3 separate regions of the Homo sapiens genome follow, and all the other regions are linked to region 1. Evidence: fine-mapped expression QTL. A gene starts in region 1. Each other region holds a variant in brackets. All regions are shown on one strand. Distances are between the middles of the regions.

Evidence for each region.
Region 2: its variant is fine-mapped to the expression of DYRK4 in cerebellar hemisphere (GTEx, PIP 0.98).
Region 3: its variant is fine-mapped to the expression of DYRK4 in whole blood (TOPMed, PIP above 0.99). The same link has a PIP of 0.9 or more in CD4 T cells and CD8 T cells.

Annotation. Positions count from the first base shown.
Region 1 is chr12:4,560,552-4,564,795 of GRCh38, forward strand. DYRK4 (dual specificity tyrosine phosphorylation regulated kinase 4) reads left to right here and starts at 1,657. Exons shown (of 15, transcript NM_001394779.1): 1 at 1,657-1,732. The coding sequence starts at 1,695. RefSeq lists a silencer at 1,492-1,786.
Region 2 is chr12:5,385,506-5,389,749 of GRCh38, forward strand. No RefSeq gene overlaps it. Among named protein-coding and RNA genes, the nearest start is that of NTF3, 44 kb to the right of the region's middle. RefSeq lists an enhancer at 2,702-3,901. The variant C/T (reference allele first, on the strand shown) is at 2,152.
Region 3 is chr12:4,602,522-4,606,765 of GRCh38, forward strand. It overlaps DYRK4 (dual specificity tyrosine phosphorylation regulated kinase 4), which reads left to right. Exons shown (of 15, transcript NM_001394779.1): 11 at 2,393-2,565. It also overlaps the pseudogene LOC103568124. Among named protein-coding and RNA genes, the nearest start is that of DYRK4, 42 kb to the left of the region's middle. RefSeq lists an enhancer at 2,300-2,639. The variant G/A (reference allele first, on the strand shown) is at 2,348.

The sequences.
Region 1 (4,244 bases):
TCATGTTCTATGCAAACTCCAGGGGTCACTTATGTGACAGTGACTGCCAAGTCAGGGTCTGTACCCTATACCATGCTCTTGACAACAGAACCTGTGGATGGTCCACTGACAATTTGATGTAGCAGATCAGTTGTTAAATTCAACGTCTCCTCCTACCCCTGACATCTCTCCTGTGTTTTCTGTTGGTAAATGAATGGCACCACCATCACTGCAGGTGCCAAAGGTGTCATCCTGGGATTGAGTCTTCTCTCGACTTTCACATCCAGTCACCAAGTCTTACTCCATTTCCTAAATTTCTCAAAACTACTCTTCCATGTGCTCTCCCTTACTCTGAAACATCATCACTCACTATTTCTAACAGGCATCCTTGCCTTGATTCTTAACCTACTCGGGCCTACTTCCATTGTTATTGCCACAGAGGGTTTTATAAAATAAAGTCAGCATGAACACCCCTCTGCAGTCTGCACATACACACCTTACCCTGGTCGAGTTCATAGCCTACTTGGTGTCTGACTCCCCCTTTCCTGCTGCTTCAACCTTGTCTCTGCCCACGTGCAACTTTGATCCCTGCCCCACTAAACTGGGTGCTGGCACAATGGTACCAAGCTTTTCTATGGCTCTGGCCTTCAGAATAGGACTTGCCTCCTTTACGTAGACAACTACTGCCTGTCCTTGAAGACTCAGATTCAACTCAGCTCTTTCAGAAAGCTTCATTTGAATGTCTTTTCTGCCTGGACCAGACTGTGCACCTCCAGGTCAACCTACTGCCACTCAATTACAAATTTCCCTTTTCATGCTTTCTACAATCTGGTGCAGAGTAAGCACTCAAAAAGTGTTCAGCTGATATATGGATTTTACCCAGAACTTTTGCTATGTACTTACTTTTTTTCTTTTTCTTTTTCTTTTTTTCTTTTTTTTTTTTTTTTTTGAGATGCAGTCTCGTTCTGTCGCCAGGCTGGAGTGCAGTGGCGCGATCTCGGCTCACTGCAACCTCCGCCTCCCGGGTTCCAGCGATTCTCCTGCCTCAGCCTCCCAAGTAGCTGGGACTACAGGCACGCACCACCACGCCCCGCTTATTTTTGTATTTTTAGTAGAGACGGGGTTTCACCATGTTGGCCAGGATGGTCTTGATCTCTTGGCCTCGTGATCCACCCGCCTTGGCCTCTCAAAGTGCTGGGATTACAGAAAAAAATGTCTAAATAGAGACAGGGGCGGGGGGGTCTCACTACTTTGAGCAGTTTGGTCTCGAACTCCAGACCTCAAGTGGTCTGCCTAGGCCTCCCAAAGTGCTGGGATTGCAGGTGTAAAACCACCGCGCCCGGCCAGAACTTCTGTGATGTAATTCTGATAACCACATGCTTCGCTTGAAGAAGGGGAGAGAGTAGGGATAATTTCATGTGTCCGGTCTGGGCAACCAACTTTAAGTTCTTTATGCTGGGATTTTGTTCAATTCTTGCCCTATACTTTAAAGAACTGGGGCAAGAGAATGCGAGTAGGAGGACGAGGAGTATGTTCTTCAGGCTGCTACTCTGCAAGGTGGTTTGGGACCACAGCCTGAGAAAGCCCTTCCAGCTCTGGAGTCATAAAAAGGGCGGGAGCCGTTTCTATAGCGACGGGAGGAGGGCGTGGCCGTCCCTTGCCCTCTGCCGGGCTCTCACAGCCTCCCGCAGCGGCGGGCGGTCAGCGCCGGCCTCATGCAGCTCCTCCCGCCGCCTATCCGCACCGGAACAAAGTAAGGGCCGCGGAGGCTCGTACTTCACGAGCAGTCAGGCGCGAGTACGAGGCAGGCGACGAAGCTTCTGGTCGACGGGGTCGTGGGGGGAGAATGAAAAGCGTGCAGAATGCAAGAGCTGACCGGGGAATGTGGGTCAGAGAGAGGCGGGCTGTGGTGCGCGGACAAGAAAATACAGTTGTAGTTTTTGCAGCAGCTGCATCCCCGGAATCCGACGTCAGTATACTTCCATGTTAAGATGCTGTCGCATCGGCGACTCCAGCTGAGTGCAGGACAGGGAGCGAGGGGTTCTGAGGAACTCAGCAGACCTATCCTGGAACTGTGCTTCCAGCCCTCACTGGGACGCCAGACTTTCTTCCTCCCTTTCTTTCTCTTCTTTACTGCATGTCCTCTTGGTAGTCGTAAGTGGGTCCACGACCACACGCCTCGCGTGGATGAGGCTCTGGCAGGCATTACTCATGTTCCCACCCAGCCCATATGCCCGGGCACCTCTGTGCTCAACCAGGGCCCAGCCCCTGACACAAAAGCGCGCGAAGGTGTGTGTAGATCACACACCCAGAGCTGCCACTCAGGAAATTCCCAATATTAGCAAATCTTTCCTTAAAAAAGAGATGAACAATGCACAATTTGAGGGTTTTTAAAGGCTATTCTGTGACATTTGCTGCATTTGAAATGTCCAGCAGCCCCTCAAAGCTTAGGAAAACCGTGACCCCTCTGACATGTCTTAAGCAACGGACAGCATCACCAATATTAATTCAAGCTTCACTGTCCAGGCTTAAGTGGAGACTCGGCAAAAGCAGGAGGCCATTTAGTGGAAAAGTTCAAACCGTGGAAACAACAAATGAAAATGTCCTTTGTCTTGCTTGAGCGATTTGATCACCTACATGTGGTCGGTATGTAAAACCTAGGAGTTCGAAGAAATTCTTCAAACATGCACTCTACCTTATTGTTTCTGTTACTTAAATCTGTTGTTTCTCTTGTTTGTTTTGGTCCTTATGGAGAAAGCAGAGGTAAATCGGAAGGGACTCTCTAGCAATATGCCAGCCACTCTTCCCTGACTTTGCCCTCTCCAACTCCACATATTGTTGCCTGCAACTTGGCTAGAATGCATAGTCCTCAAGCGTGTGGAGGACCCAGTGCTGGGATTTAGTGGTTTTAGCTGACTCTAAGCCCATCGTGAGTGTGTTGTGATGGCTCCCCAAAGAGCAAATGCTGGTGGAGGCTGCATTCATAGAAATGCAATGACCACATCAAAGAATATGGTCGTGCTGCCTGACTTAGCAATGAGTAGAACATAATCCAGACTCTAGAAACTGTAGCTACTTTGAGATCACAAAGAACTGGAAAATAGGAACAACCACAAGGCAGGCTCTCTCTGTCAGGCCTGGGTGTGCCATCACATGAAGAGAGGTTTGAAAAAACTTCACAGAATGCCTGGAGATGAGGAGATGCAAGGGAGAGAAAGCTTTTTTCTACTCAACTTTTGAACATTCAAGAACTCTTGAGTAGAAAAGAGATAGATTTGTTCCTTGGTACTCTGCAGAGGATAGCAAGGATCAGTGGAGGAAATTTTGCTCAATATAGTTTATTCTTCCAAGAAATATCAAGTACCAACCCTATGTAAATTAACAGTTGAGTGTGAAATGGGTTGCCTAGAAAAACAGTGCACTCTGTCATAGAAATATTCCAGCATAGACAGAGTGATTGCCAGGAATACCATAGAAAGAGGATTCTTCCCCAGGGTGGGAAAATGGATGACATGGTCTCCAAAACCTCTTCTAGCTCTTTAGAGTCTGGGAGTCAGTGAACCCTCAAGAGTCTCAGGGATATATGCAGAGGGTCCAAGGAATTCTCTGGCAGAAATGAGTGTGACTTAAAATACATTTAGATAGAAGAAATAAGACCTAGTGTTTAATAAATCAGTAGAATGACAATAGTAAACAATAATCTATTGTATATTTCAAAATAGCTAGTAGAGAATAATTTGAAGCCCTGACTTGATTATATATTATATAAATATAAATATACATCTATTATATATCAATTAAAAAATGAATGTAACTTAAGTTCATTAAAAACATTATCACCTGTTCACAGAATGCAAACGGAATCCCTGCAAACCCTGCACTGCCATACTTTCTGCCCCAAAGACAGCCCCCAGGGCATAAAGATCAAGCTACTGGCAATTGCAGTAGAAATCCTAAAATCATAACAGGTAAATCTCAAAAGACTTGTTTCCTTTCTGGATATTGAAGTACTCTATACACAGATGATGTGTATATATTAATATAAAATACTATGCAGTGCAGTAAGGCTGGCACCTCTGTGGATCTGCCTTAACCTTGAGTCTTCGAACTCCTTGAAAACAAGGCTTCTGTTTTATTTATCTTTGAATCCTCCATGCTTAGCCCAGTAGCTGGCACACAGTTGATGCTCTGGAATTTTTTGATGAATTAATCTATTTTAGATTTCTCTTCCCTCAGCAAATTTGTACCAAGTTTTCAACAGACAA
Region 2 (4,244 bases), 820 kb after region 1:
GGAGCATTGCTTGAGCCCAGGAGGTCCAGGTTGCAGTGAGCCATGGTTGTACCACTGCACTCCAGCCTGAGTGAGAGTGAGACCCTGCCTCAAGAAATAAAAAATAAAAATAAAAGATGAATAAACTGTCTCTTAATGGTATAATATGGATAGAGGCATCTAACACTGTGGCTGACACATGATAATTGTTCAACAAATGATTGTAAAAACAAACCCTTGGGGACAAATGGCAGCATTTATACTGATTGATTAATGGTTCTCATTTTTGCAATAATCCAAATACCCTGGAGGGTTTTTTAAGGCATCTCCTGCTAGCTCCCACCCGCAGCATTTCTCATGCAGTAGGCCAAGGTTGGAGCCCAAGATTTTACGTTTCTAATAAGTTCCCAGGTGACGCTGAAGCAGCTGAGTTTGTGCCCACACTTCCGAACATGGCTGTTGACTTTTCTTTCCTATCTAAAACCCCCTCCACCTTTGGCTCATTGGTGGAGACTGCTACCGATTGCCTATCCAATATCAACTGCCCCTTTTCCTTACTAATAGACTCTGATTTTCTTCTAGGCAGCAATGCAAATACTATATTTCCCAGCCTCACTGCTGTGAAATGCAATCAATAATTCAGATGCAGGAGTTGTTTGATGGGACTTATAGGAGAATCCCTAAAGGCACTGCAAAATGGTAACACAAGTTATTTTGCCCTTTCTCCTTCTTCCATTTATGGTAATGTGGGCATGATGGTTGGAGGTACAGCAGTCATCTTGGATCATGAGGCTCTACATGAAAGATCATGGAACAGAAACACAGAACGAGCCAGGATCCTTAATGACATCGTGGGGCAGACTTGCCAGCCCGTCGATTCTTTACCTCAGATTTTTCCTATGTTAAAAAAAAAAAAAGCTCAAAAATTTTAAACCACTGTTATTTTGTTTTTACATTTTCTACAGAAAACCTAATCATATGTGATTTAGCTTCTAATGCATTGTAGCGTTCTTTTTGTCCTCTGGCTTCTCAAATTACTCCTCTCTGTCCCTCCTCCCCTTCATCCTCCTCCTTTTCCTCCTTCTTCTCCTTCTGTTCTTCTTCTTTTTAACTTTTTTTTCTTTTTTCTGCCTTTGAGAACACATCTTCTCCAGGGATTTGACCTAATCATTCTTCTTTTCTCTACTCCATCTTCCCTCTTTTCTCTCCAAACTTGTTCTTGACAATCTCAGCCAGCTTCACAGCTCCAGCTATAACCTTTATTTGAGGACTCCCAAATTTGAATCTGTAATCTTTCATTTGCAGAGAAAATGCTGCAACTGTGCATCCTCACCCAGGTATCCTAATGGACCAGCACCTGCAAGGTTTCCAAACTGAATTTCTGATCTTCCCTACAAAATCAACTACTTTTCTTCTGTTTCTCAATAGACCACCTTACTTTTTATTTCACAACATGGAAACTTCCAAGTCATCTTGAACTGTGCCTTCTCCCTTGGCTTGATAAATGATCAATTATAAACTTATCTGTAATTGATTACCCAATTTAATATCTATAATAGAAAACTCTCCTCTCCGTCCCAACTTTGATTTTTGCAGCTCAGGTATTTGTCATATTCCGGGCCAGTGAAATAGCCTTATACCTGTTTTTTCTCCCTCACTTCCACCATTTTATGTGTGTCTGTCTGTGAGTGTGGGTGAAGTACTGCTGTAATCAGATTCAACCCCCATGCAGCCACAGTAATACACCAAATACAGCCTGCTATCTGACACCAACATAGCTTTCCAAATATAATTTCCACTGCTTCTCATCATATGCTTTTTCTCAACTTCATTCATCCCATACTGATATGGTTTGGATCTGTGTCTTCACCAAATTCTCATGTTCAGTTGTAATCCCCAGTGTTTGGAGGTGAGGTCTGGTAGGAGATGATTGGATCATGGAGGTGGTCTCTAATGGTTTAACACCATGCCTCTTGGTGCTGTCATCATGATAGTGAGCTCTCATGAGATCTGGTTTTTTGCAAGTGTGTGGCACCTGCCACCACGTCTGCTTTGACCATGTAAGACTTGCCTGCTTTCCCTTCACCTTCCGCCATGATTGAAAGCTTCCTGAGGCCTCCCTAGAAGCCACTATGCTTACTGTACAGCCTGAAGAACCATGAGCAAATAAAC[C/T]TCTTGTCTTTATTCAGGTATTTCTTTATAGCACTGCAAGAACAGACTAGCACATATGTGATTTACTTCTTTTAGTATTTGACCTATAATTCCCATTTGCTAAGTCGTTCATGCAGTTTCATTTGCCAATAATCCCTACTACTTCCCACTTCCTCGTGCCTGAATCCTACCTATTCTTTAGGCTCAAAAAAATGCCATCTCAAGACTCTACAAAGCCTTTCATGAGCTCTTGAGCTGAAAGTTCTCTCTCCATGCTTTCAAATCCTCTGTCATTGTATATGTATATCTTAAGGCACTAACTTTTTCCTTCCTATTGTAGTAATCAGGATACATAATTTATCTTGTGAATTAAACCTGTCTTGTTCACCTGCGGGTCCTTCAGATGATAGGTTCTCAGTAAACATATTTGAAGTGAGTAAACACTATTTTTAGTTGTTGAGTGCATGAATAAATACATACGTATTAGATGTTTGAGTGTTCCATATAATCTATCCTCTCACCACCATGGCGGCTACACACTCCACATCCACGTTCCAGCCTCCATTACTTTGGACAGAATTGGCAATGAAAAGTGAAGAAAACAAGAAGGCAAGAAAACTCAGGCTTATGTCAATATATTCCTTTCTTGAAAAATACGTAAAACAGAAAAGAAAAGGTTAAGTTTAAATGGAACTTTGATGGGTAAGAAAAGGATTGTGAACGTTTTTTGCTGCAGGAAAGATATTTTTGCTCCTTTAAAAATATTAAGAATCTTATTGAAAGGGGTCAAGTGTACCTTGTTTGAGTGTCCAACAATAGGGGCTTTCTATTCACAGCACATTTCATACTTGCTCTATTGCAACCCAACTGTTTTTCAGTGAAGCCATGTGCCTTGATTATATTATCACTGCCTTTTGAAGACTCTCCTGAGGCTTTTTTTGAGAGCAAAACCCCTTTCAGTTTCATTCCAACATGCAGGAGAAAAGGTAAGTGATGTGAATTCCACGTTGGGGTCATTAATATCACGTGCTGCACTGAGTGGGACTTCACATCCCACTCAGGGACTTCCCTTGGCTGTGTGGACAGAGGGCTGCACCCCTGCCTGACAATCTCCAGCCCCAGAGACCATACAGGCAGGTCCCAATCCTCCTCCTAGCAGCACAGACAGTCAGATATGGGGGAAGAGCACAGTTACAGGATTCTTGGTCATTTACTGAGCCTGTAATATCCTATTTATTTCACCAAGATGTGGTCAATACACTCCTCTAGTTCTCTTATCTCAGTTTTCTCATCTGGAATATAACCTGCATGGAGAATCCTTGTTTTCCATTCCGTAGAGTATGATACAAATTCTGAGGATTTAACTTACTTTTTTTCCAGTTGAGTCACCATCTGAGATACTTCTGCCACCTCAAAAGCCACAAAGAGGGTGTGGTTCATACCTATTAGATGACCCATTAGGGATGAGGGTCATGTCAGGGATATTCCTTTATTTTGTTATTTCTGTAAATATTCCCTTGCCTTCCTCCAACTGAATGTGCTGTGGGTCTCAATGAAGCAGCTCCCTACCGGAAGGGTCTGGTCACTCTCATTGGCTTTAGGAGAAGGGATGGGAAGCAGAAATCATTTTCCAACCTTCACCTTTCTGGACCAATGACTGTACACCCAGGATAGTTTGCAGAAAGCTATTAAACTGATCATCTTTCAGTTATTTTCTAAGCATCTATTAGCCCCTGGCCTTGCTACCTTCTCCTCTAGGTATCTCCCAAAGAAGTGAGGCATCCCATGCACAATTCCTCTTTTCTCTTCTCTCCAACTTGCTGTGGCTCTCTCCCTTTAAAGCCTCCTCCCTTTCGTGTCTCACCTCCCTTTTCTTGCCTAGGATGTGCCATCTTCCCAGTGATGAACCCCCATCCCTTCAGGCTTCTTAGGCCTGAAACATCCACTTAAAATCCCAATGACTTTGTCTAATTCCTCCACTTCTGTTGCTTCAGTAAAAAGGAGGAACACGTTCTAATCTCAGTGCTGGCCAACTCAAAAGGGTGAGATGGGTGAGGTGGGGATGGAGTTCTGGACTCCGTCCAGAGTATGGGGGTCAGAGGAAGAGAAATTGG
Region 3 (4,244 bases), 42 kb after region 1:
ATATAAGCCAACTTATAAGTGGAGGGATATAAGCCAACGGCTCTCCTGTTGATGAGTGAGTGACAACATCAATCTTTGCTGCAGAATCTTCTTTCTTGATGCCACTGACACAGGAGTTGGAAGATCTGGGTAACACCTGCTGAGGGTCATTTTCTGTACTATTTGCATTATTAATGGGAGGCAAATACCCCTGACTCTTCAATGTCTTGTAAATTCAGAAGTTCAAATTTTCCATCTCTCTCTACCAGTATTGTCCTATCCTTGTTTATTTCACAGCTTCCATTAATAAGTGACAGGAGCATATTTTCTTGTCCCAAATCATTGGAAATACATCACTGTGACAGTTTCCCAAATATATTTCTTTCATTTTCAAAATAACTTTTGTAAGTATTAGTGTCTTTTAGTGGAGGAACTTCCAGATCAACTAATTTGTCCTTGAGCTTAAATTTTCACTCCCTTTTATCATTCACGGGTTCTTGATTCTATAGAAGCTTGTTAGCTTGTACAATTTTCTCCATAATGTATCACCTTACTTCCTCATCCTCTTCCTCCTCCAAGTCTTTCTGGCTTTCTAGTTTGGACTCCTGGAAAGAGTTTTCACTATCTGAATCTGATATGGGATCCAAAGGTTGAATACTCGGTACCGAAATGAAGTCATTTCTTCTTGGTGAGACCTCATCCTGCAAAGATTTGTCAGGATCAGAAAGCTGTTTGCTGTGTTCTATTACTGTTTCATTCTCTTTTAAGTCTTGGTTAATATTCTCTTCCTTCTCACAAGCCATCTCTATTATGCTGGCATCACTTTTTTCATTTTCATTAGTTAACCCCTCCAGGTCCTTTTCAGATTCATCTTTGTATTCTTCACTTTCTTTTGAATCAGTCTCTTTATTTTCATTCATTTTCCTCTCTCCCACCATTAATATTTCTACTCCACACCGTCCTTCCCTTCTCTCCCTCTGTTTCCCTCCTGTCTGTGTAAAATGCGGCGGCTGGGGTCACAGAGACGGCCAGGGGAGTTCTCCTCTCCTCCGCTTTCTAAGCTCTTCACATCGAGGCAAGGGAGACCCTGGCACCTGCCTCCGCAGCAGCCAGGACCACACTGCCATGGCAACAGCATGCCTCTGTGTCCTCCATCTGGGCCTCTCTGGCAGATCAATTTTTGAGGACATAAAACCTTTGTGTCTTTATGTATGAATCCTATAAGAAATTCCAGCTAAAAAGTAATGCTTCCCACAAAGAACTTGTATGTTTTCCCTTCTCAGATGTTGAAAGCTGTGTAACTTTTCAGTTTTCATTTATCTTGGCTGCCAAGATGCTCGGAACTGAATTCGTAATTATTTTATCCTTGGTTTCTAGCAGTCATTTCCCCCTTTGCATATTTTCTGACATCTTTTTTATCTTTATTTTAACTGTGAGGCAGTATCTAATATTGATGCTAGAATTAAACTGCCTACTCTCAAATCCCAGCTCTGTCACTTATAGCTGAGTAACCTTGACATTTTAACCTCTGTATGCCTCAGTTTTCTCTTCTTTAAATTGGAGGCAATAATACTACTTGCTTCACAGAATTAATGTAAGGGTTGAAAGGGCTTATCTATAAAAGTACTTGGAATCGTGCCTGGCACATACTAAACATAATGTAAATACCATTAAATCCATGTTCTAAAATACTCTGTGCATGTGTACTTTGCAAAGTACCACAAACACATTTGGGAAGCAGGCAGGATATAAACATTATTTTTATTAAATCTCTATTTTGTTTTAAATCACAGAATTATGTTCTGACAATAACCAATTTAAACAACAGAAAAGTGGTTACAGAATCCCTGCCCCTCCCCAGGTAACCAGAAACCCCAGTTATGCGGAAATAACTACCGTGTTCCATTTCTTCGACTTCAGTCTGTTCATCCTCACCTGTTGAGAATTTTCTTTCTATACAATAAGTGCACATGCTATATTGAATACAGACTTTGCATGCTCCCTTTCTAACTTGATATGCTCCCTTTCTAACTTGATAACTCTCTTGCCAAGTCACAAGACTCAGAAGCTGTCTACCCCAAATCAATCTGACAGTTTGAAAACTTAGTCTTATATTTGTCTTATGTTTTGTTTGTTTGTTATAAACTTGGCTCACTTAGATTCACTTTCCTACGACAGTGCCCACGTTGGAGTTCGTTATCAATAAAGCAGGGACAGTCACACCTCCTTTATAATCAGGTTGCTGGCGGATTTGATGCTGTGATGGTGTAATGGGAGTTCTAAGTGCTGGCCAGCTGCACTTCCCTTTCACTGCCAGCGGGGGCGCAGTCTAACTGAGAAGTTGTCCTGGGGGAGAGCGTTCTGGAGG[G/A]TAAGAAGTTTGTCCCACGAGGTTTCTCTTACTTTGCCTCCGCAGTATACACGTACATCCAAAGCCGGTTCTACCGATCCCCAGAAGTGATCCTGGGCCACCCCTACGACGTGGCCATTGACATGTGGAGCCTGGGCTGCATCACGGCGGAGTTGTACACGGGCTACCCCCTGTTCCCCGGGGAGAATGAGGTGGAGCAGCTGGCCTGCATCATGGAGGTACGCGGAGGGCTGGCGGTCGGCTCCCACGGAGACCGTGGGCTTGGCCCTCAGACACGGGGCTGCACCAGACTCGCCCAGGACCATGGCCTGCATACCTTGTTGTTGTTGTTGTTGTTGAGTATTCCCTAAAAGGAGTTTTGAAATTGTGTACTCCCTTGTACTTGTCAAGTCGACATCTAACGTTTTATCATAAATTTAAATAGTTGCAGAGGATGTCATTTCCATCATATTGTAAATAGTGACATTTTAAAATAAAATTACACCGCTCTTTCAAAAATATCCAAAAGAATGCAAAACCAGACGGACATGACACCCATTAAAATCTATCTGATAGTATGTGAACAGGTTCTTAAGAGTTGTGCCATGATTTTACTTTGTTCTTTTTTCCCTTTTGTTTCTACTCTTTTTTCTACTTCCTCTATGGAATTTTATTCTAATTTAATATACGTTTATGTTTAGAAACTTCTATCAATCATTATAGCTTTAAAAATTTCCTGATACCGTAAGCCTCATGTGTAAAAATTTCTTTCTGGTAAGTTACCATTAAAATATATCTGGTGTGCAAATTTTGATAATTATTGAAAATAAAATGTGAAATCTTATTGGGCATACAGCTCTTAGAAAAATGAATAGAGCTGGGTTTTTTTTTTTTTTTTTTTTTTTTTTCCAAATTAATGCCTATACCCATAGGTGAATAATGCTTCTTGCTAGAATGCCCGGGCTCGGGATCAATGTGATTCCAATTGCTTGGTGGTGTAGATGTGAACCCAGTGAGGAAGCCTGTTCTAATTAATGTCGTCTAATTCGGTGACTCCTTTTGAGTTCTGTGTAAGAATCAAATGGTGATCTGTCATCTAAAATTATGTTTACCAGCCTGTCAGCTGACAACCCGATTAAAATGTTGAAAACAAAGAATTGGAAATTATTTGACTTCAAAGTATGTGTATTGTTCAGGCATTAGTCATTCATTATGGGAAATGACAGTTTTCTGGGAAAACTATCTCCTAATAGCAAGGCTTGACCAAGACTCATGATATGATTATTAATTATATCTATTATGCTTTCACTTGAAAGCCATCTTGTTTTGGAAATAAATTAGACAAAATAGAAAAATAACTTTAAAAATTTTAAATTTTACATTTTAGGATTTTCCCAGTGAACAAAGATATTTTGTGTGCAAACACCAAGCTAGCTGGCTGGCTGGCTATCTATCTATCTATCTATCTATCTATCTATGTATCTGTATCTATCTATCTTTGCCAAATTTCTATTTTCCAGATTGTCTCAAAGTTACAGAGAAACACATATAGCCTTGAGAATGACTAAACATAGATAATTTCATTTCATGATCGAAACTAATAATAAAATATTAAAATAACTTAGGTAAAAATAGCTGTGGTGGAATGAACACTGGCCTGCGAGTCATTAAACCTGGGGTCTTAGTCCTGGCTCTGTCTTTTTGACTAGGCATTTCCCAGCTCTGGACTATAAAATGAGGGGAGCAGAGAAGATGGCTTCTAAGGTTGATAATGAATGATTTTATAAAGCATCCCCAGACCACTCCTGCTTCCAATACCAAAGAGAACGGGGCCTATGTTTCAAATTTCCTACAGCCCCAGAACTGACTCAGCTTCCTCTTGACCTCAGTGTCAAAGGGTCTGAGGAACAGAAGAGCA